Homo sapiens: one gene and its partners. Each later gene encodes a partner of the first gene's protein in a complex. Each region holds a gene or a part of one and is shown in the gene's direction. Other genes may lie near its edges. The genes, in order: TXNL4A, LSM7, SART1, SNRPD1, SNRPD3, PRPF6 and SNRNP40.

What was found.
Region 2: TXNL4A (region 1) and LSM7 share a complex: the UniProt entries of both Homo sapiens proteins name them as parts of the precatalytic spliceosome.
Region 3: TXNL4A (region 1) and SART1 share a complex: the UniProt entries of both Homo sapiens proteins name them as parts of the U4/U6-U5 tri-snRNP complex.
Region 4: TXNL4A (region 1) and SNRPD1 share a complex: the UniProt entries of both Homo sapiens proteins name them as parts of the U4/U6-U5 tri-snRNP complex.
Region 5: TXNL4A (region 1) and SNRPD3 share a complex: the UniProt entries of both Homo sapiens proteins name them as parts of the U4/U6-U5 tri-snRNP complex.
Region 6: TXNL4A (region 1) and PRPF6 share a complex: the UniProt entries of both Homo sapiens proteins name them as parts of the U4/U6-U5 tri-snRNP complex.
Region 7: TXNL4A (region 1) and SNRNP40 share a complex: the UniProt entries of both Homo sapiens proteins name them as parts of the U4/U6-U5 tri-snRNP complex.

The regions. Positions count from the first base shown.
Region 1 is NC_000018.10:79,971,564-79,975,063, reverse strand, and holds part of TXNL4A (thioredoxin-like protein 4A), read left to right. Parts: intron 1-1,207; coding exon 1,208-1,379; 3' UTR 1,380-3,500. UniProt on the Homo sapiens protein: Plays a role in pre-mRNA splicing as component of the U5 snRNP and U4/U6-U5 tri-snRNP complexes that are involved in spliceosome assembly, and as component of the precatalytic spliceosome (spliceosome B complex).
Region 2 is NC_000019.10:2,323,304-2,325,586, reverse strand, and holds part of LSM7 (U6 snRNA-associated Sm-like protein LSm7), read left to right. Parts: intron 1-1,390; coding exon 1,391-1,462; intron 1,463-2,283. UniProt on the Homo sapiens protein: Plays a role in pre-mRNA splicing as component of the U4/U6-U5 tri-snRNP complex that is involved in spliceosome assembly, and as component of the precatalytic spliceosome (spliceosome B complex).
Region 3 is NC_000011.10:65,975,234-65,978,733, forward strand, and holds part of SART1 (U4/U6.U5 tri-snRNP-associated protein 1), read left to right. Parts: intron 1-1,145; coding exon of another isoform or gene 1,146-1,161; coding exon 1,162-1,335; intron 1,336-1,422; coding exon 1,423-1,533; intron 1,534-1,780; coding exon 1,781-1,868; intron 1,869-2,329; coding exon 2,330-2,420; intron 2,421-2,530; coding exon 2,531-2,666; intron 2,667-3,366; coding exon 3,367-3,456; intron 3,457-3,500. UniProt on the Homo sapiens protein: Plays a role in mRNA splicing as a component of the U4/U6-U5 tri-snRNP, one of the building blocks of the spliceosome. May also bind to DNA.
Region 4 is NC_000018.10:21,631,667-21,634,020, forward strand, and holds the end of SNRPD1 (small nuclear ribonucleoprotein Sm D1), read left to right. Parts: 3' UTR 1-1,854; downstream 1,855-2,354. UniProt on the Homo sapiens protein: Plays a role in pre-mRNA splicing as a core component of the spliceosomal U1, U2, U4 and U5 small nuclear ribonucleoproteins (snRNPs), the building blocks of the spliceosome.
Region 5 is NC_000022.11:24,565,999-24,569,498, forward strand, and holds part of SNRPD3 (small nuclear ribonucleoprotein Sm D3), read left to right. Parts: intron 1-1,985; coding exon 1,986-2,178; intron 2,179-3,500. UniProt on the Homo sapiens protein: Plays a role in pre-mRNA splicing as a core component of the spliceosomal U1, U2, U4 and U5 small nuclear ribonucleoproteins (snRNPs), the building blocks of the spliceosome.
Region 6 is NC_000020.11:64,026,132-64,029,631, forward strand, and holds part of PRPF6 (pre-mRNA-processing factor 6), read left to right. Parts: intron 1-850; coding exon 851-1,027; intron 1,028-1,471; coding exon 1,472-1,605; intron 1,606-2,346; coding exon 2,347-2,438; intron 2,439-3,245; coding exon 3,246-3,360; exon of another isoform or gene 3,361-3,500. UniProt on the Homo sapiens protein: Involved in pre-mRNA splicing as component of the U4/U6-U5 tri-snRNP complex, one of the building blocks of the spliceosome.
Region 7 is NC_000001.11:31,269,289-31,272,788, reverse strand, and holds part of SNRNP40 (U5 small nuclear ribonucleoprotein 40 kDa protein), read left to right. Parts: intron 1-1,289; coding exon 1,290-1,410; intron 1,411-3,500. UniProt on the Homo sapiens protein: Required for pre-mRNA splicing as component of the activated spliceosome. Component of the U5 small nuclear ribonucleoprotein (snRNP) complex and the U4/U6-U5 tri-snRNP complex, building blocks of the spliceosome.

The DNA.
Region 1 (3,500 bases):
GCATGTAGGGCCTGCCTGCAGCATGGAGAATGAGAGGGCGGCCAGAGGTGGGCTCCAGACCCTGATCAGATTTGCCTCTCCTGAACCAGAGACTTCACGGGGAATACTTTCTACGGAATAGTAGGTGGAAGCCAAATGCATGATCTTGTGGAAGTGAACGTTAAAAAACAGTCTTTAGGTGGGGTATGCCTGCAGCCCAGCCACTCTGCAGGCCGGGGTGGGACTGGAGCTAGGGGTTTGAGTCCGGCCTTAGCAACATAGCTCGCATCTCTAAGAAAAATAATCAGGCCGGCACAGTGGCTCACGTTTGTAATCCCAGCACTTTGGGAGGCCGAGGTGGGAGGATCACTTGAGGCCATGAGTTTGAGACCAGCCTGGCCAACATGGGGACACCCCATCTTTACAAAAAACTAGAAATTTATCTGGGTGTGGTGGCTCGTGCCTGTGGTCCCAGTTACTTAGAGGGCTGAGGTGGGAGGATCATTTGGGCCAGGAGGTTGATTTTGCCACTATGCCCTAGCCTAGATGACAGTGAGACCCCATCTCAAAAAGAAACTTCAACAAACCAGGATAAATTTATGCCAGTACAACAAAGGGTTAATATCCTTATCTTGTAAAGTGCACATGAGTATTCATGAGGAAAAGAACTAGTCTCTTGAAAGATAAGTAAAGAATTATCTACTTCCCTAACCATAAACATGCAAAATGTCATCTTCATTTCATAGTTGAAGGGCTTTTAATACAATTTATGTCATTGCTCATAAGAGCACTGTGAAAAACTTACACATTGCTTTTATCAGGTAAATTAGTACAAATTAGATGGGGGTCTCATTTTGTTATCCATGTTGATCTCGGACTCCGGGCCTCAAGTGATCCTCCTGCCTCAGCCTCCCATAGAGTTGGGATTACAGGCATGAGCCACTGCGCCTGCCCTCCTTTGACCTTTTAATTTCCCCTTAGAATAACTGTCCTAAATAAATACAGAAAAATGCAGGAAAGAGCATGGTGGACAATGCATTGCATCTTTAAAAACACATTTAGCTGCTTCCTGTATTCTCCTGCATCATGGCATACACTCTCGATTTTATGCGTTCTTCAGTGATGTTAACAAGAGCTTGTCACAGTGGGAAAAATACGGCATTGTTTTCAAGGAATTCTTTTTTAAAGAGACTTCTATGAGAATGGATGCCCTTGTTTCTCGTTGCAGGAACAAGCACATCATGATTGACTTGGGGACTGGCAACAACAACAAGATTAACTGGGCCATGGAGGACAAGCAGGAGATGGTGGACATCATCGAGACGGTGTACCGCGGGGCCCGCAAAGGCCGCGGCCTGGTGGTGTCCCCCAAGGACTACTCCACCAAGTACCGCTACTGAGGCGCCCTCAGTCTGCGCGGATAAATGTCGTGGAGCCCTTTTTGTATGGAAACGTTTTAAGCTATTTAAAGCCTTTGGAAAATACAGGAAGCTCCAGGGCTGGAGCACCTCTGAGATGGAATTGATAACATGGTCTTAACTCACCGAAATAAACAAGCACGTGGTGAGAGGAGCAGGCCTACTTGTTTGTTCTCAGGAAACTTAATGAATAGATTACTGATTTTCCTAGTCAAAGTTAATTCTTACCCTTGGAGTAAAACGAAGGTGTTTATCCTGTGAGCCTGTGCGTTTTGCATACTGGGTTGGTTTGCTGGGGCTGCGGTGACAGCATATGCCGCGAGCTGGGCTTTAACAGAGATGTGTGCTCTCACAGCTTTGCAGGCGGGGGTCTGAGATCAGGGTGTCGCGGGTGGGGGGTCACTGCTGAGGCCGTGAGGGGAATCTGCTCAGGCCTGTCCCTGGCTTCTGGGGGCTGCTGGTGGTATTTTCAGTTCCTTGGTGTGTGGATACTTCGCCCCATCTCTGCCTTCACCTGTGTCCTCCCTGTGTGGGTGCTGGTGTCCAAAATTTCCCCTTTTCGTAGTGACACCAGCTGTGTTGGATTGGGGCCCACCCTGCTCCAGCATGGCCTAATCTTAACTAATTACATTTGCAAGGATCTTATGTCCACAAAAGTCACAGTCTGAGGTGCTGGGGGTTAGGACTTCAATATATAAATTTTGCGGTTACACAATTCAATCCATGACAGAATCCAAAGGTTTACTCTGGTTATAAAAACAGTACAATAAAATATTGTTTATAGCCTTCCCTGTAAGGAATAGGAGAGCTATTTTTTATTCTTCCCAAGATTGTATTTGATGTAAACATATTTTCTGTAGAAGCCATGGCCCTTCAGTTCATATAGTTAGAAAATTTCCTTATTGGCCAGGCACGGTGGCTCACACCTGTAATCCCAGCACTTTGGGAGGCCGAGGTGGGCAGATCACGAAGTCAGGTGTTCGAGACCAGCCTGGCCAACATGGTGAAATCCCGTCTCTACTAAAAATACAAAAATTAGCTGGGCATGGTGGCGCGTGCCTGTAATCCCAGCTACTTGGAAGGCTGAGGCAGGAGAATTGCTTGAACCCGGGAGGTGGAGGTTTCAGTGAGCCGAGATCACACCACTGCACTCCAGCCTGGGCAACAGAGCAAGACTCCGTCTCAAAAAAAGAAAAGAAAATGTCCTTATTACAGTCTCAGGTTTCTCTTGCCCTCTGTCATCCTAGCAGTGTGGATGGTTGGTTGGGATCTTCGTGTCCCGTCTCAGCACACTCGAGCTCTGAAGTGAAAGTGAGGAAGGGCAGGGATGGGGGCACTTGAGCACACCGTGGGCCCTCTGACCTCAGACCCAGGCTCTGCCCCACCAAGTGACCTTGGGCAGGGTACCTTCTCTGAGCTTTGTTTCCTCCTTGGTAAAGGCGGATAATAGTGTCTGCCCTGCACACAGATGTGGACGCAGAAGCACGTGGTGCCTGCCGGGCACAGGAGTGGTGCACAGGGCTCGCTGCTGTCGGGAGATTGATTGCTGTTGTGGAAACGGGAGGGTACTTACAGAATGAAGCACATTTTTTACATACAGTACAAATGAGTGTGTGCTTTTTAAATGGATTTAAAATTCAAATGCAAATCTGCAGTTTAATCTCCCAAGTGCTGATTTTTCTATGTATAAAGTAGGAGAGTGCAACAGCGTATCGGAATGAGGGGCTAGGGAGAACGTGTATGTGACCTCGAGTACCTGGCATGTAACAGACACTCAGTATTACACTCCTGCTATTTCTCCAGAGCAGGTGAAACAGACGGCCAGGAAGCACACGAAGAGACACTCAGCATCACTGCTTGTTAAGGAAGGTGCAAATCAAAACCACAGTGAGACGCCACTTCACACCTACAAGTTCGGCTAGATACAAAAAGATCGCAACAAGCGTTTGCAAGGATGTGGAGAAATTGGAGCCCTCACACACTGCTGGTGGCAAAGTGGTAACACAGGCAGGCAGGTCGTCAAAAAGTTAAACATGGGCCGGGTGCAGGTGTCTCAAGCCTGTAATCCCAGCACTTTGGAAGGCTGAGACAGGCAGATTGCTT
Region 2 (2,283 bases), on another chromosome or scaffold:
AGACAGGCAGGCAGAATAATGCCCGGGGTGCCTGCTTCCCGAGATTGGTGGTGCCTGCTTCCCGAGATTGGTGGTGCCTGCTTCCTGAGATTGGCGTGGGCGTGCAGAGGGCAGCACCGTAAGGGCTGTGGGTTGGTGTCTGGAGGAAGCACCTGAAAGATGACAGGGGTAAGAAGGAGAGCAGGGAGGGGGTGGCTGCGGGACGCCCCTCAGTGAGCGCAGAGGTGGAGCTGCTGCTGGGCCTCGGCTGCAGGAGCCTGCAGGGCAGTGGAGGGGAGTCCCAGGCAGAGAGGGTGGGCTGGCCTCTGCTGGGGACACACAGCTCCCCCTTCACCCTTCTCAGTGTCACCAGACACTGCGGAGCAGGATCAGATGGCAGAGATCACCACCGGGTCAGAGAGCCCTAACCTAAGTTGGCAAGTTGTGGCCCAAGGCGGCGAAGCTTGAGGGGTGGGGCAGGCAGCGTGGAGAGAGAAGCCACAGAGACCGTCTCAGCCCCCGAAGCCTTTGCACCTGGGTCTCAGAGCATCTCTGTTGCCTGCTCCCCGCAAGCCCTAAGCAGCAGGGCTGGGATTTGTTCTTTTGTATTCCGTGAACTCACTGAGGGACTCAGCACAGGTCAGGCAGCGCAGTCATCACCGCTGTCAGAGCGGAGCACTCTGTCTCCCCTACAGGAAGCCCTGTCCCCATCAGCCATCACTGCCTGTCCCATCCCTGGCCCTGGCACCCACGCATCCCTTCCCTGTCTTTGTGGATTGGCCTGTCCTGGACATTTCATAGAAATGGGATCTCACGGTGCGCAGCCTTCTGTGTCTGGCGTCTCTCACTGAGCGTGACGTCCTCAGGTGCGTCCTCAGGCGCATCCGCGCTGTGGCCTGCGCCAGCCTCGCTCCTCTTCCTGGCTGGTGGTCCCACCGCGTACACGTGCCGCCGCCTGTTTTGCTGCTGCTTTTGAGCTGAGAATTGTTTTTATGACTTTTAAATAGCTAGAAAGGGATCAAAACAAGACTGTCTCACGATGTGGAAATTACATGAAATTCACAGTTCAGTGCCTGTGAGTAGAGCTGACCGGCCGCAGTTCAGCCACACATGGACTCATTACCGAAGCTGCCTCCACCCAGGCAGCCCGAGCCAGCAGCTGTGACCGGCACCCTGTGGCCCACACGGCCAGAAGTGTTTGCCATCTGGCCCCCCGCAGACGTGGTCTGCTGCCTGTGGTGGAGATCACTCTGGAGGCGGCTGTCATCGGCCACTCCCGGGAGCCCTCTCCTACCCTCAGTCCTCCATCCCTGGAGCAGTTAGCCCCATACCTGGGCCATGCTGGGGCGGGCCCTGCGCCCAGGACGGATCTCATGCCTTCTCTTTTCTCTCCCCCGGTGATTTCTCCAAGCCAGTGGAATCCTGAAGGGCTTCGACCCACTCCTCAACCTTGTGCTGGACGGCACCATTGAGTACATGCGAGGTGAGTGGGGTGGCGGCCGAGGCAGGCAGCGGGACGAGGGGGATAGTGGGGTGAGGGGGGCAGCGGGACGAGGGGGGCAGTGGGACGAGGGGGGCAGCCGTGGGGCTCCCTGCTGGCTCTTCTTCTCTCAAACCCACAAAACCTCTGAGTTACCAACGTGAAGCCTCGTGGCGGCCGATGGACGGGCTTGAGCGCTCACTGGTCCTAGACGTCCTCACAAAGCAGGAAACCCCATTGTTGTGGGGCCTGGAGAGACGGGAGCTGCCAGCTCACCCACTGGTCTCTACACACTGACGGGGCGCCCGGCACAGTTAGAGGACAACCTTTTTAAATGTTTTATTATTTTAATTTTTGTTAAATTGGTGACGTGAGAGGCCAGGCACAATGGCTCACACCTATAATCCCAGCGCTTTGGGAGGCCAAGGCAGGAGGATCTCTTGAGGTCAGGAGTTTGAGACCAGCCTGACCAACATGGTGAAACCCCGTCTCCGCTAAAAATGCAAAAAAATTGCTGGGTGTGGTGGCGCATGCCTGTAATCCCAGCTGCTCGGGAGGCTGACGCAGGAGAATCGCTTGAACCTGGGAGGCGGAGGTTGCAGTGAGCCGAGATGGTGCAACTGCACTCCAGCCTGAGTAACAGAGTGAGACTCCGTCTCAAAAAAAAGAGATAAGCTGAGGTCTCACTGTGTTGCCCGGGCTGGTCTCGAACTCCTGGGCTCAAGCCATCCTCCTGCTTCAGCCTCCCACAGTGCTGGGGTTCCAGGCGTGAGCTGTGGCGCCCAGCGGAGAGCAGCCTTGCTGTGGGGTAGTGAGCGTGCCGT
Region 3 (3,500 bases), on another chromosome or scaffold:
CTGAGACTACAGGCATACACCACCATGCCTGGTTGATCTTTGTGTTTTTTGTAGAGACTGTGCTTCACCTTATTGTCCAGGCTGGTCTCGAACTCCTGGGCTCAAGTGATCCTCCAGCCTCGGCCTCCCAAAGTGCTAGGATTATAGATGTGAGCAACCACCCGGCCCCTGGAAGAATTTTTTTTTTTTTTTTTTTTCGAGACGGGGTTTCACTCTTGCCCACTCTTTTGAGTGCAGTGGTGTGATCTTGGCAGCCTTGATCTCCCAAGCTCAAGCAGTACTCCCACCTCAGCCTCCCCAGTAGCTGGGACTATGGGCGTGTGTGACCACAATGTCTAATTTTTATGTTTTTTGTAGAGATGGGATTTGGGTATGTTGCCCAGGCTGGTCTCGATCTCCGGAACTCAAGCAGTCCACCCGCCTCAGAAGATTTTTTTAAAAAAATGAATGTAATATAAAATGAAAGAGGGGTGCAGAAGTGGACATAGTGACTCGAACCTTCACTGAGGAGTGAGGACTTTGCTGTCTGGGCTGCAGGGTTGAGGGAGAAGTTTTTTAAAGAGGGGAGATGGTAATCATTGTGTGTGGCTGGGCATCTGCGACAGGAGGGAAAGCAGAGGGTGCTGGTGCCCGTGTGGGGGTCGCTGGATTCAGTGCTGGCAGCATGAGTGAGTTCTCTTCCCATGTCACGGAACCTGCTTTCTTGGTGAAGCAGGAAGCGAGAAGCTGGGCTGTGGGAAGTCAAAAGCGTGGGCCACCTCACCACCCTGCGGGTTCTAGAAGTGCTGTCTAGAGTCCTGAAACCGGAGTTTGTCGGGGGAGGGGCAGGTGGCAGGAGGGAGCCTGGAGGAAGGAGTTTGAGGCTGAGGTAGTGTGTGAGGGGCTTTGGAGGGGGATTGGCACAGGCCTGGTCAGGAAGGCCCTGTAGGATGTTGGGTATTCATTCAAAGGGCATCCAAACCCATTGATGGGTTTGGAGCAGAAGAGTGACCCCAGTGAAAGAGGTGCAGAGTGGAGTTAGGCGGCAGATAGCAGCTGGGCCTGCATGGGCTGTGGGCGTGGCCTGTCTGGCTGCTGCCAGGGAGGACCCTTAGGTTCCTGGGTCTCAATGGCATCACCCCAGAAACTGCTGGGTTTGCCCACAGCCGCTCCCTCCCCCAGGTGGTGGAGATTGTGAAGAAGCTGGAGTCTCGCCAGCGGGGCTGGGAGGAGGATGAGGATCCCGAGCGGAAGGGGGCCATCGTGTTCAACGCCACGTCCGAGTTCTGCCGCACCTTGGGGGAGATCCCCACCTACGGGCTGGCTGGCAATCGCGAGGAGCAGGAGGAGCTCATGGTGCGTCTGGGGCGGCCCCGCCCTCTGCTTCCCTCGGCTGGGTGGGCTGGCTGGGGCCTGGGCCGACCCTGGTCTTTTGTGCCCCAGGACTTTGAACGGGATGAGGAGCGCTCAGCCAACGGTGGCTCCGAATCTGACGGGGAGGAGAACATCGGCTGGAGCACGGTGAACCTGGACGAGGAGAAGCAGCAGCAGGATGTGAGGGCCGCGCCGCTGGGGGGTGGGCGTTTGGGGGTGCTCAAGCTGGAGATGAGCACCGGGCTCGGTGTCCAGAGCCTCAGCCTCCTCATCCAGAGTGGGCTCTGCAGACCTCCCAGGGCGATCTGAGGAGTAAATGAGGAAATTAAATGTTGTGGAGGGCTGGTGCCTGGCAGGTGGTGACCAGTGGGTGGGGCTGAGAAGAGCCGGTATGGCCTGCTAACCACCCCCGCCACGTGTCCCGTAGTTCTCTGCTTCCTCCACCACCATCCTGGACGAGGAACCGATCGTGAATAGGGGGCTGGCAGCTGCCCTGCTCCTGTGTCAGAACAAAGGTAGGGAGCTCAGGGCAGCCATGACTTGGGTGGGCTTGGGTGCTGCTGCAGGTGCAGGCAGGGCCCCCTCCGGTCCCCTCTGCTGCCCCTTTCTCTCAGTCCCAATGCTGGAGCCAGCTGTCCGGCCCAGAGCCACTCCTTCCCCTCCACTGTGGCATCTGTCCGTCTGCTCTGCCTTTGAGGCTCCACACCTGCTTGGGGAAGGAGAGGGGAGTTGAAACTGTTCCAGCTGTGGCACAGAGAGCCCTGGTGTTAGGACCCCAGCTCTGCCATTTCCCTGGCCAGTGACCCTTGGCAAGGGGCTCATTTCTGCATCTTTGCTTTGCCTGTAGAACAGGCCTGATGGCTTTCCAGAGGCAAGGAAAGGGAGGTGCCCCCACAGGGCCTGCTCTGCCTTCTCAGGCGGCCCTGGAGCTGTGGCTCTCGAGGGGTTGGGAGTCTCACAACCCCTCCATCCCTAGGGCTGCTGGAGACCACAGTGCAGAAGGTGGCCCGGGTGAAGGCCCCCAACAAGTCGCTGCCCTCAGCCGTGTACTGCATCGAGGATAAGATGTGAGTGTGGTGGGGCCTGTGCAGGGCTGAGGGGCCTGTGCCAGCTTGGAGCTTCGGGACCACAGCAGGCGGCAGCTCCTCACACTAAGGCCTCCTCTGTCTCGGGCCAGGGCCATCGATGACAAGTACAGCCGGAGGGAGGAATACCGAGGCTTCACACAGGACTTCAAGGAGAAGGACGGCTACAAACCCGACGTTAAGATCGAATACGTGGATGAGACGGGCCGGAAACTCACACCCAAGGAGGTGAGCAGGGCCTTTTGCAGGCGGAGGCCCGGCCTGCCACAGGGAGGCCAAGCCCAGGGCCATGCAATGCCCCGGGCCATGCAATGCCCCAGGGTCCTGGCTCCACCAGCCTCTGGCTGGGGGCCTGGTGAATGCCACGGATGGGGAGGGGGCCCTCAGGGCTGAGGAAGGCTGTGCCTCAGTTTGTCTCTAGTGGGCACAGCAGTCTCTTTGCAAGCCTGGCAGGAGGGTCAGACAGGCACTCGGGACCTCTGCCCTCCTGTCCTCACCTGCGTGAGCCCTTCACTGGCTTTCCTGGCCCGCAGGGCCATTCCAGCGTCCAGGCCCTTCCAGCACTCTCGTAGGCCGCCCGACCGTCCTGCCCTACCACTCAGCTGCCCCCTTGCTCTCTGGGGTTTGTCTCCCTGCAGCCCCAGCCCCAGCCCCAGCGTCCAGGCCCAGCCCCTGCGTGGCAGGTCTCCAGGTTCCCCATGCTCTGCCCCCATGGCAGCGCATCCACTAGCCAAGCTGGTCTCCCGGCCTCTGCTGGGGCCCTGCAGGGTGCCAGCGTCTGTGCTCTTTTCCCATCCCCTTCCCACTGCACCCCAGGCCTGGCATTGGGGTCAATCAACACCCGCCCTGTTATTATACACCTTGTGGGCACAGGTGGCTCCGGCCCCACCCAGGGCCCTGCATCTCCTCTCATGCCCCGCGTCCCCAGGCTTTCCGGCAGCTGTCGCACCGCTTCCATGGCAAGGGCTCAGGCAAGATGAAGACAGAGCGGCGGATGAAGAAGCTGGACGAGGAGGCGGTGGGTGCCCTTGGGGATGTGGGGGGCCCTGTGCCTGCCGGGGC
Region 4 (2,354 bases), about 58 Mb from region 1:
CATGATCTGCACGAGGCCTCCCAATGTGCTGGGATTACAGGCGTGAGCCACCGTGCGTCCCCGGCCTATACCTTTCATTAATTAATAAGCTGGGGGAATAAATAACTGGATTTCATTCTTTTCCATCTTCTGACCTGTTGGTGCTCCTATTGCTTGTATCCAAGTAGAAGGCAAAAGGCAAGAGACCCCTGTAATGCAGCAAGTGGAGAGATTTGTTGAAGGGGTCAAACAAAACCCTGCAAGAGTAGGAAATAAACAGTTGGCTCCTGTCCTCGTGGAGCTTATAGACAGAAGCAGATAACAAATAAAAATTGGAGCTTAGTGCCGTGGTGCACACTTGTAGTCCCTGCTACTGGGGAGGCTAAGGCAAGAGGATCGCTATAGCCTGGGAATTTGAAGCTGTAGCGTGCTATGATTGCAAGCAGCCTGGGTAACCTAGTGAGACCTGGCTCTTAAATTTAAAATTTAAATGAAAATGGCCACTTAGCATAAGAGATCTAAAATTACGTTTTGTCCTGGCATGGTGGCTCATGCCTGTGACCTCAGCACTTTGGGAGGCCGAGATGGGCGAATCACTTGAGGTCAGGAGTTCGAGACCAGCCTGGGTAACATGGTGAAACCCTGTCTACTGAAAATACAAAAATTAGCTTGGTGTGGTGGCGGGTGCCTGTAATCTCAGTTACTCAGGAGGCTTAGGCAGGAGAATCACTTGAACCCTGGAGGCAGAGGTTGCAGTGAGCTGAGATCACACCACTGCACTTCAGCCTGAGTGACAGAGCGAGACTGTTTCAAAAAAAAAAAAAAAATTTGTTTTGAGAGTTTTTGTGTCTAGGATGTTTGCAGTGTGAAGCCAGTCTAGTAACAGTTTAAATGTAATAATAAATCACAGTGGGTACTAGATTGAGTTTATTCCACTAGAGGTCATTATTTCATTTCCATGTGAAAGGGCTAAAATTGGGTGAAGAAAAAGCTATTTGAACTGATTACCATCATTTGCTATAAAGGAAGCATTATAGTATGAATAGAAAACAGACTAGAGTTTAACATGCTTCTCTTGACCCCTCTTCACCACCCCCTAAAAGGCAGATGGGATCTTAGGACTGCAGCATTTTGTACACATCTGATATTTAATGAGATGTTACATATGAACTTTAGTTTTTTTTCTTTTCTTTTCTTTTCTTTTCTTTTCTTTTTTTTTTTTTGAGACAGAGTCTAGCTCTGTCACCCAGGCTGGAGTGCAGTGGTGCAATCTCGGCTCACTGCAAACTCTGCCTCCCGGGTTCACGCCATTCTCCTGCCTCAGCCTCCTGAGTAGCTGAGACTACAGGTGCCCACCACTATGCCCGGCTAATGTTTTGTACTTTTAGTAGAGACGGGGTTTCACTGTGTTAGCCAGGATGGTCTGAATCTCCTGACCTCGTGATTCGCCCGCCTCGGCCTCCCAAAGTGCTGGGATTACAGGCGTGAGCCACCGCGTCCGGCCGAACATTAGTTTTTAAAGAAATGTATTATGAATATAGATAGAAAACCCAAAGTGAAGGAATAGAAAATGAAATATCAGTTTCTTTTAATCTATCATAATTATGTGAGCATAACTTAGTATTTTGAAATAGATTAATGTAGTCAGCAAACAATTCATGTATTACCTATAATAGATATCATACATATAACATTTAATAACATACAGTTCTTGTTCCTGAAGACTTAACCTAGAAAATAACTCCATAACAAGAAGAATCTCTGTCATAATAAACCAACAGCAGACATTTTCTAAAGGCATTAAAAGTATATCTGATACTGGCCTTTATTAATGTGAAATTCTTGTGGATCTGTGAAATAAAGAGGAGTACTTTCTTTTCGTTTTTTTTTCTTTTCTTTTTTTTTGAGACAGTCTCACTCCTTCATCAAGGCTGGAGTACAGTGGTGCGATCTTGGCTCACTGCAACCTCTGTGTCCCGGGTTCAAGCAATTCTCGTGCCTCAGCCTCCCGAGTAGCTGGGATTACAGGCATGCACCACCACACCCAGCTAATCTTTGTATTTTTAGTAGAGACAGGGTTTCACCATTTTGGCCAGGCTGGTCTCTAATGCCAGACCTCAAGCGATCTGCCTGCCTCAGGCTTCCAAAGTGCTGAGATTACAGGTGTGAGCCACTGCGCCCAGCCAATAGGAGTACTTTTGAAAAGGAAGATAAATTTTTTTTTTTTGAGACGTAGTCTTGCTCTGTCACCCAGGCTGGAGTGTAGTGGTGCAATCTCAGTCCACTGCAAGCTCCACCTCCCGGGTTCATGCCATTCTCCTGCCTCAGCCTCCCGAGTAGCTGGGACTACAGGCACCCACCACCACGCCTGGCTA
Region 5 (3,500 bases), on another chromosome or scaffold:
AGTTTCTGTCTTGGGTAGTCTGACCATAAACCTGGCGTTCATTTGTGGCACTAGAGGTTATGGTATTCTTCAGGGGAAGAAAAGGATTGGTAAGGACTTGGGAACTGGATGAAAATTTAATAACAGGCTGGGAGTGAGGAGCCTGGAGCAGAAGGTTTATGAGAAACTGGAGCCCTGTTGCCCCTGAAGGTAGAACAGGGATAGTGGGTAGAAGCTCTAGAAACCATTCCTCTAGAAACTGCTCATATACAACAGGGGCGGCCCCAGAGCATAGTTTTGTTTGTTTTATTTTTGAGAGGATCTTGCTCTGTGGCCCAGGCTAGGGTGCAGTGGCTCCATCACAGCTCCCTGCAGCCTCGACCTCCCAGAACCAAGTGATCCTTTCACCTCAGCTTCCCGAGTAGCTGGACTACAGGCACATGCCACCACACCCAGCTAATTTTTGTAGAGATGAGGTCTCACTGTGTTGCCCAGGCTGGTCTCAAACTCCTGGGCTCAAGTGATCCTCCCACCTTGACCTCCCAAAGTGTTGATATTACAGACATGAGCCACCACACCTGGCCCATAGTTGTTCTTTTCTGAGTGTTCAAGCAGAGGCTGGGTGGCCAGTTAGCACTTGAGGAAAAGAATGAATGAGTATAAGATGGCAGCTAGCCAGACAGAAATCTGCAGAGACAGCACATCTTTCTACAATAAGGGCTGACCCATTCTAAATAAATTATAGTTCTCTCTCTTCAGAAGGTTCATACAATAAGCTGCTTTTTCTGTAAATGTGGTGCTTGTTGAGGTTGATGCTGGCAGATTGGTATCACCCTCCCATGCCAAGCTGGTCTCACCTTCAGGCTCCCCATTTGTCCATCCTGCAGTCTATCCTTGTTGCCACATTTATCTTTCCTGAGTGCTGCCTTAACCCTATTGATCTTTCCTCTATCGACAAACTTGACTGACTCCTTTATCTGAAGTAACGACCCCGTCCAGTGTCATTATTCGACTGCTCTGGTCCTCACATCCTGTAGGCTCCTGCCCAAGTGCCTGCTCTTTTCCTTGTGCAAGCTCTTGCCTCATAACCCTCCAGTAATTTCAGGCCCTTTTTACAGGCCTTGTGGTACCACCTCCATTTCTCAGTCCCTAGTCACTCAACCTAGAGGGTTCTGTCTCACCTTCTAGAGTATGCACTCTGGAGGGTCAGAACCACATCTGGTATATACTTGTGACCTTCATGGTGCCTTTGAAATCTGAGTGCCAGGCAGTGCAGGGGAAGACAGTTTGGACCAGCAGTTTGAAGCTGTTTTCGTTAGGGTTTAGCACCTTCAAGAGCTCTTCACATCTTTGCTCAGCAGGCAGTGCAGCACAGCCAGGGCTCTGAAGCTAGGCCAGCTGGTTCGAATCTGGAGTTCCCTGCATTCCAGCTGTTTGACCTGGGATAACTGCTTTGGTTTTTTTAACATGTAAAGATGGGAGCACTCGGCTGGGCGCAGTGGCTCACACCTGTAATCCCAACACTTTGGGAGGCTGAAGCGGGCAGATCACCTGAGGTCAGGAGTTCGAGACCAGCCTGTCCAACCTGGTGAAACCCCACCTCTACTAAAAATACAAAATTAGCCGGGCATGGTGGCGCATGCCTGTAATCCCAGCTACTCAGGAGGCTGAGGCAGGAGAATCGCTTGAACCCGGGAGGCAGAGGTCACGGTTAGCCGAGATTGCACCATTGCACTTCAGCCTGGGCAACAAGAGTGAAACTCCATCTCAAAAAAAAAAGGGGGGGAGCACTCATACCCACGCTGAAGGTGTTGTGAGGACTGTTTAGGTAAAGTGCTCAGTGCAGTCCCTGGTGTACACAGTTAGTACCGATGATTGCTGGGTAATTCACCAGCTTTGTCACAATGTCAGTCTGCTTTTCTGGACTTCCCCCTCCCACCAGTCAAGGCCCTCCCCACCGCTGGTGCTGTTGACCGTTAACTTATTAGCTGGTGATTTCCTTCCAGATGTCCAACATCACAGTCACATACAGAGATGGCCGAGTGGCACAGCTGGAGCAGGTATACATCCGTGGCAGCAAAATCCGCTTTCTGATTTTGCCTGACATGCTGAAGAACGCACCCATGTTAAAGAGCATGAAAAATAAAAACCAAGGCTCAGGGGCTGGCCGAGGAAAAGCTGCTATTCTCAAGGCCCAAGGTAGGTGCTTTTCATGCACAGGTTTTAAAATATAGGTTTGTCTTGTGTCTTGTAGAAAGGGGCCCTATTACTGCCTGGAGACAGAGAGGGTTTGACCTCTGCTCTCTCCACACCCACCACCCACTGCCACCCCTTCCCCTTGCAGCGTGGAGTGATCCTGTGAGGCCATTATTTTATTTTTTTGAGACAGAGTCTCGCTTTGTCACCCAGGCTGGAGTGCGATGGTGTGATCTCAGCTCACTGCAACCTCTGCCTCCCAGGTTCAAGCAATTCTCCTGCCTCAGCCTTTCAAGTAGCTGAGATTACAGTGCGCACTGCCCTGCCTAGCTAATTTTTTTATTTTTAATTTATTTTTATTTTTATTTTATTTTTAATTTTTTTTAATTTTTTTATTTTTTTGAGATGGAGTCTCGCTCTGTCGCCCAGGCTGGAGTGCAGTGGCGTGATCTCGGCTCACTGCAACCTCCGCCTCCCGGGTTCAAGCAGTTCTCTGCCTCAGACTCCTAAGTAGCTGGGATTACAGGCACCCGCCACTGCGCCGGGCTACTTTTTGTATTTTTAGTAGAAACGGGGTTTCACCACCTTGGCTAGGCTGGTCTTGAACTCATGACCTTGTGATCCACCTGCCTCAGCCTCCCAAAGTGCTGGGATTACAGGCGTGAGCCACTGCGCCCGGCTTATTTTTATTTTATTTATTTATTTTTGTATTTTTAGTAGAGATGGGATTTCACCATGTTGGTCAGGCTGGTCTTGAAGTCCTGACCTCACATGATCCACCTGCCTCGGCCCCCTGAAATGCTGGGATTACCAGTGTGAGCCACCGCACCTGGAGAGGCCCATCTTTTCTAGAAGTTCTGTGTGAGAGGTGTGGGATCGCTTGCCCTTGTCTAGTTTGCCGAGCAGACACAGCCCGGAGCAGATGAGCTGACTCGAGTGTGAGGGCAGCATTTCCTAGCGAGACTGGGTCTTATGGATGGACACCAGCATGTACTTAGGGAGGTCTGATAGTGGAGCTCCGTTTTCAGAAATAAAGCCACCTTTTAGTACATTCCAAAAGTGGGACTGTCCTTTTCGCAGTCCCCTAGTCTGGTCTTGCTTCTTGGTTAGCCTAATTTGGTTTTATATTTAGGTTCATGAAAGTTCTGTCATGTTGATTAGACAACAAAGTAATTGTGGCCCTTGGAAACTGTCTTAGTGTTGGTAAAAAAGGTTTGCAGCCAAGGAAGGCACTGGATTCTTCATTGGTATCTTTAGCTGCTGTACATGTTTTATATGTGTGTGAGGAAAAAAGTCAAACTGTGTTTTTCCTCTGCTCTCACAAC
Region 6 (3,500 bases), on another chromosome or scaffold:
GTGGTGATGGGAGTGAGATGACGGCAGGCAAACGAGACCACAGCACACTCATCTTTGTGATGTGACTAAAACATTCATGTGGCCGGGCGTGGTGGCCGGGCGCGGTGGCTCACGCCTGTAATCTCAGCACTTTGGGAGGCCAAGGCGGACAGATCACCTGAGGGTGGGAGTTTGAGACCAGCCTGACCAACATGGAGAAACCCCGTCTCTACTAAAAATACAAAATTAGCCGGGCGTGGTGGTGCGTGCCTGTAATCCCAGCTGCTCGGGAGGCTGAGGCAGGAGAATCGCTTGAACCCCGGGGGTGGAGGTTGCGGTGAGCTGAGATCGCGCCACTGCACTCCAGCCTGGGCAGCAAGAGGGAAACTGTCTCAGCAACAACAACAACAACAAACATGTTCATACGGCCGGGTGTGGTGGCTCACGCCTGTAATCCCAGCACTTTGGGAGGCCAAGGCAGGTAGATTGTGAGATCAGGAGTTCGACACCAGCCTGACCAACTCTGCTAAAAATACAAAATTAGCTGGGTGTGGTGGCTTGCACCTGTAGTTCCAGCTACTTGGGAGGCTGAGGCAGGAGAATGGTGTGAACCCAGCAGGTGGAGCTTGCAGTGAGCCGAGATCGTGCCACTGCACTCCAGCCTGGGTGACAGAGCGAGACTCTATCTCAAAAAAAAACAAAACAAAACAAAAACATATATTTATCCCCACCTTTTGTGTACACAAACAGGCTATGAAAAGCTTACAAAAGTACACACAGTACTGCAGGTAACAGTGTTGAGGATGAGTGTACCATGAAGCACGTACCCTGGAGCTGATGCCCTGCGTGACAGTGCATGTCTGCCCCACAGGTGTTCATGAAGTCTGTGAAGCTGGAGTGGGTGCAAGACAACATCAGGGCAGCCCAAGATCTGTGCGAGGAGGCCCTGCGGCACTATGAGGACTTCCCCAAGCTGTGGATGATGAAGGGGCAGATCGAGGAGCAGAAGGAGATGATGGAGAAGGCGCGGGAAGCCTATAACCAGGGGGTACGTCTCTGCCTGCACCCTGGGGCTGCAGCTGACCCGGCATTCACAAAACTGAGCCCCCTGGTGCAGGGTCATTGCCCTTCGCCTCTGAGGAGATGTGGAGGGCTGGGGGTTACAGCTGATGGAGCTGCAGACTCAGGACCCAAACCCTGGTCCCCTCGCTGAGTTCTGTGCTTTTCCTTATATGAAGCTGCACACACTGCTCAGAAGTGCAGAGTGTGGCACACCTGCAGTAAAGGCTGGTACGTACAGACCTGTGTGCACAGGTCCACAGCACCACCGCACACCTGTACACCCACAAATGCAGAGTGTGAGGGGTGTTTTTCCATGGACATGGCAGCCCTGAGGGACTCGGTCACCCACTGCAGATGAGAAGCTGGGCATGGCTGTGTCCCAGTTCTTCATAGACACCACCTGAGCTGCTCTCTTACTTGTTGGTTGCAGTTGAAGAAGTGTCCCCACTCCACACCCCTGTGGCTTTTGCTCTCTCGGCTGGAGGAGAAGATTGGGCAGCTTACTCGAGCACGGGCCATTTTGGAAAAGTCTCGTCTGAAGAACCCAAAGAACCCTGGGCTGTGGTGAGTCCTGGAGGGGGCAGCCTGGCCTCTGGGCACAGCTTCCCCATCAGGTGGGCCGCCGTCACCCAGCTGCTTGTGTGGAGTCACTCGTGCAGTGCTTCCAGGCTCAGGGGCTTGGGGGGCGGTAGGTGCTGGCCATGAAAAATCACGGTCCCTGCCTTAGGAGAGTTCGGCCTAGGTACTGTGACAGGCCTGTAGATGGTTTGATGCAGTTTAATTTGTGTTCTGATGGAGGGCGCCTGGGAGAGGGAGGGGTTAATGATGGCTGGGACGAGGGAAGGATGGACCCCGGAGAGCCAGCTCCACAGAGGAGGTGGCGTGGAGAGCCCTGGAGGTGGACAGGAGCCTGCTAGGTGCAGGCTCTGTTCATGGAGGTGCTGCGTCCAGCTCAGGGTGACGGGGCTGGAGCACTGTGCAGGCACTGCCGCAGACAGGCAGCTTCTGGGTGCCTTGTGCGGCCCTGGCTCTCCCAGTCTGGTCTTGTTTGTTCTGGATGCCTTCACCTGCATCTGGACAGCGTCAGGATCTGAGGTCTTGCCTTGGGGCGGTTGCCAGTGGGGCTGGCAGGGATGTGGGCCCCAGCGCCTTGTTTCTGTGGTGGATGAGCTCTGCTGTGGAGGGAATGGAGTTTTTGCTGCTGTGACTGGGTGGAGAGCCCTTTCAGACAAGGCTTCCCAGAAGCTACCAGAATATGTGCTGTTGGTAGACGGCTGTGGGACCTCCGGGGGCCTGTCTCCTCAGGTTGGAGTCCGTGCGGCTGGAGTACCGTGCGGGGCTGAAGAACATCGCAAATACACTCATGGCCAAGGCGCTGCAGGAGTGCCCCAACTCCGGTAAGGGGGTGCCCCGACTCCGGTAAGGGGGTGCCCTGACTCCGGTAAGGGGGTGCCTTGACTCCGGTAAGGGGGTGCTTCCTGGCTTCCCAGACTCCGCAGGGCTGGCACTTCCTGAGGGAGTGGGGGCTCAGGCTTCAGACGGACTTTATTAAAATGTGTAGTTTGTGTGAATCATTTCAGTCAAAAGTTTCAGCTATACTCGGCCGTTAAGACAACTTAATGAAATTCTTGGCCTCAAAATGGGAGAATTTGATTTCATTTCTGAAGTGTTATCATTTCTTTTTCTTTTAAAATTTAAAAGAAATTGGCCAGGTGTGGTGGCTCATGCCTGTAATCTCAGCACTTTGAGAGACTGAGGCGGGAGGATTGCTTGAGTCCAGGAGTCCATTGCTTGAGACCAGCCTGGCCAACATGGTGAAACCCCGTCTCTACTAAAATACAAAAATGAGCTGGGCATGGTGGCGGGCGCCTGTAATCCCAGCTACTCGGGAGGCTGAGGCAGGAGAATTGCTTGAGCCCGGGAGTGGGAGGTTGCAGTGAGCTGAGATTGCGCCATTGCACTCCACCCTGAATGACAGAGTGAGACTCTGCAGGGTGTCCAGTCTGTGCCCTCAGGGCTGCCATGGTTTTGGGTGGGCCAGAGTGCTCATCCTTTGTGGTTCTCCTTGCACAAGTTCTGCGAGCCGTGTGTGGGAGGCCCCTGTCGTGGTCTGAGGACGTCCCGGGTTAGAATCTGTAGGCTGGGCACCTTTCCGGAACCAGAGGCTGGAGTGCAAATCTTTGTTCTTTGTTTCTGAATTATAGGTATCCTGTGGTCTGAGGCCATCTTCCTCGAGGCAAGGCCCCAGAGGAGGACCAAGAGCGTGGATGCCCTGAAGAAGTGTGAGCATGACCCCCATGTGCTCCTGGCCGTGGCCAAGTGAGTGGGGCCCCCACAGGATTGCTGAACCTCGGGGTCCTAATGGGCTCTTTTTCCAGAGTCTGTCTGCCTCTTCCTGGTCATTGTAAAGATGCCCGGCAGCAGGGTGGGCTTCCCCGATCCTCGGCTGCCGTCGCTCC
Region 7 (3,500 bases), on another chromosome or scaffold:
GTAAAGATAAATACTGTTTTGTATTTTCCTTTTTTGCTTAATAGCTTATTATGTAAATATTTTTACATTTGGTCTTCTGAGTTATTTTTAGGAACTGCTTAACAATAGCTACACATTATTGAGGACCTGTCTTGTGCCCGGCATATGCTAAGCATTCTTATAATCCTTACAACAGCCGTAAGAAGTAGCTATTGTTATCCCTAATCTTACAGACCAGGAAACAGGCCCAGAAAGAATTAGTGACCCAATGACACATAACTCTAAGTGGCAAGGAACAGTTTATTCTTACCCTAAGTCACCACTCTTTCTACTCTGTCATGCTATCTCCTGTATGAGAATTCAGTTTTGCAATGTGCTTATGAACCATAATTTAATAAACCACCTATTTTTCCTGCTTGACGTTTAGGTTATTTTCTGTATCTTACGTTTCCTATACAAGCAATAGTGAACCTGTAATTTATTTTTATTTTAATAAATGTGCTTTTCCATAGTGTATGTGCATGTACATATCCATACATGTACATATATATACATTTATTGTCACATATTGTTACATTAAAAGAAAAATTTTAAGCATCTGTATTTTTCATATTGTTACACAAACATGTAATCATAATGCCTTTTTTAAATGACATGTTCGTTTTATGTATTTATAATAATTTTTAATGGCTAAGAATCATAGCCATTTTTAGTTTTTTTCTATAATAGTTTTTCTTTGCTATGATTTGAAAATAACCTTTCTGAATTCTATTTTTTTGTGTGTAAAACTTTATCTTAACATTTGATATGCATTCGTTTATATTTATCTAGTCAAACGTGGTAGCCTGAGCTACCTTTTTAGAAAGACAGAGATTGGCCAGGCATAGTGGCTCATGCGTGTTAATCCAAATACTGAGAGGATGAGGTGGGAGGATTGCTTGAGCTCGGGAGTTCAAGACTAGCCTGGGCAACATGGTGAAACCTGTCTCTTCAGAAAAATTAGCTGGGTATAGTAGCATGCTCCTGTAGTCCCAGCTACTGGGGAGGCTTAGATGGGAGAATCACCTGAGCCCGGGAAGTCAAGGCTACAGCGAGCCATGATAGTGCCACTGCACTGGGCAACAGAGTGAGACGCTGTCTCAAAAAAAAAATGAAAATTAAAAAAAGGTGTTTTTCTCTTTGACAGAAATCCTGTGTTTTATAGTAGAGTAATATCAGTGTCTCTGGGCAATTGACTCTTGTCTCTTGTGTCATTCTCTTTCTCTGCTTTTATTAATTTGATTTCTGGGGGCACCTTTCTGTTTTTGCAGGTCTGGGACCTGCGCCAGAACAAGCTAACCTACACCATGAGAGGCCATGCAGATTCAGTGACTGGCCTGAGTTTAAGTTCTGAAGGCTCTTATCTTTTGTCCAATGCAATGGACAATACAGGTAACTTTGGAAAGGAAATCTCTCCCAGGATCCAAGGAAAAAGTCAAAGATTGCTCACAGATTCCATCAGACGATTAGAATGTGTTGTAATGGGGAAAGCTTTAGGTGAGATAGTCAAGAATCTAGGACTGTAGTCTCAGATCTCTGTCTTGTCCCTGAACAACTTTGCACACAGCATTTCTTCTCTCTAGGCATCAGTTTCTACATTGATAAGAAGATTGGACTTTACCTTTAAGACCCATCTCAGCTCTGGTATGCTGTGTATCCAACAGGATATTAGAAACTCTAGGTGATGAGTTTAATGAAAAAGATGTGAATCTAGAAGTCTATTCAAGGCAGTTCTTGTGCGTTTTCAGAGAGCACCAAGCTTGGATGATCTCTTCTGCTCTTTCCTGCCAGTCTGTCTTCCCTCCCCACTCTGAAAGCATTGGTGTGGGAAGAGGTCTTCATTAAAACATTCTGGATTTACACGAACACACTCTTGCTCTTTCTCTTTACTTGTTTTTGAGTTGTAGGGTGGGAGGATGGGTTACTACAGAAAAAAAGTAAGGTGACTTGCTGGATTATATGCTTAATGTTGAGGGAGTTTGGAAATGGCCCTGGTATACAAAATTATAGGCTTGTCAGGAACTAAAATGTATTCCCTGACATTTTGTAACAAAAACAATACCTGACATTCATTGGGTACTTAATAAATATTTGTTGAATTAATGGACATCTTTACCTTTTAACTATATTCTCAATGGCAAACTTTCACGCATAGCTTTGCCTTTTTATGCCTGTCTGACTCCAAGGATTGATAATACTTTTTTCATACTCAAATAAAATGACATCACTGAAATTCCACTATAGGTATAGCTTCAGTTACAACGGCTATAGCTACTGCTTACAATAGATGTTTATACACATTTAATCTAGCATTAAAAAAATATTTTTTCCTTAATTTTTTTGATAAGACAGGATCTTGCTGTGTTGCCCAGGCTGGTCTCAAACTCCTGGGCCCAGGCAAGCCTCCCAAGTACCATGCCTAGCTAATTCTAGCGTTCTTTATGAGGAACAATGAGGTTTCCTAGATTGATACTAAAATAAGGAAAAAATAATAGAATAATTTCTTGTGGCTGCATAATACAATTACAAATTCTTTATTTTTGTTTGTTGCCTACAAATTTTAGAACCTTTGCACATATATCATCTCATTGGATCTTTAAAATAGTGTTATTGGCTGGGCAGGGTAGATCACCTGAGGTCAGGAGTTTGAGACCAGCCTGGCCAATGTGGTGAAACCCCATCTCTACTAAAAATACAAAAATTAGCCAGGTGTGGTGGTGGGCACCTGTAATCCCAGCTACTTGGGAGGCTGAGGCAGGAGAATCACTTGAATCTGGGAGGCGGAGGTTGCAGTGAGCCGAGATCACGCCACTGCACTCCAGGCTAGGCAACAAGAGCGAAACTCCATCTCAATCATATCAGTCAATAATATTATTTTAAAAAGAAGACAGATAATTTTCTCTTCATTTTACAGAACAGAAAAACCAAGACACAAACAATCTCACTGTTTACCTGACATCACCCAAATATGTAACAGAGATAGAATCAATGTTTACTTTTTCTGATTTTTGGTATGGTACAGTGCTTTTTTGATTTATTTGACCTTTTATATATTTTATATATATCTGACCTTGTCCAGTCTTAGACTATCAGGTGCCCATATGAGGGAAATTAGGAAAGGGCGATGTAAGTTTGGCTTTTATAAGTTCATTGTCACAGTAGTTCCTGGTATTTAGTTTGTCACATTGAAGCTTTGCTGGATGTGACTAAGCTGGCAGAGAAATCTTGCAAAATATCTTTTTGAAATTAGTATCACACCCAACTGCATTCTGTTGCAAATTACCAACATTGTGTGTGACATTTTTCCTTCCTGCCCCCTCAGCTAGCCCCAGTTATTGGGATTTAGATGTGTTTTCCTGCTTGAAAAAGAAAAGAGCCTTAACAGGTAGCAGTATGTCAAGTTGGACTTTGCCCACCGAGGAAACAGCATCTGCCATTGATTGACATGATACTAATTTCAGCTGGGTGCCCAGGAGGCCTCT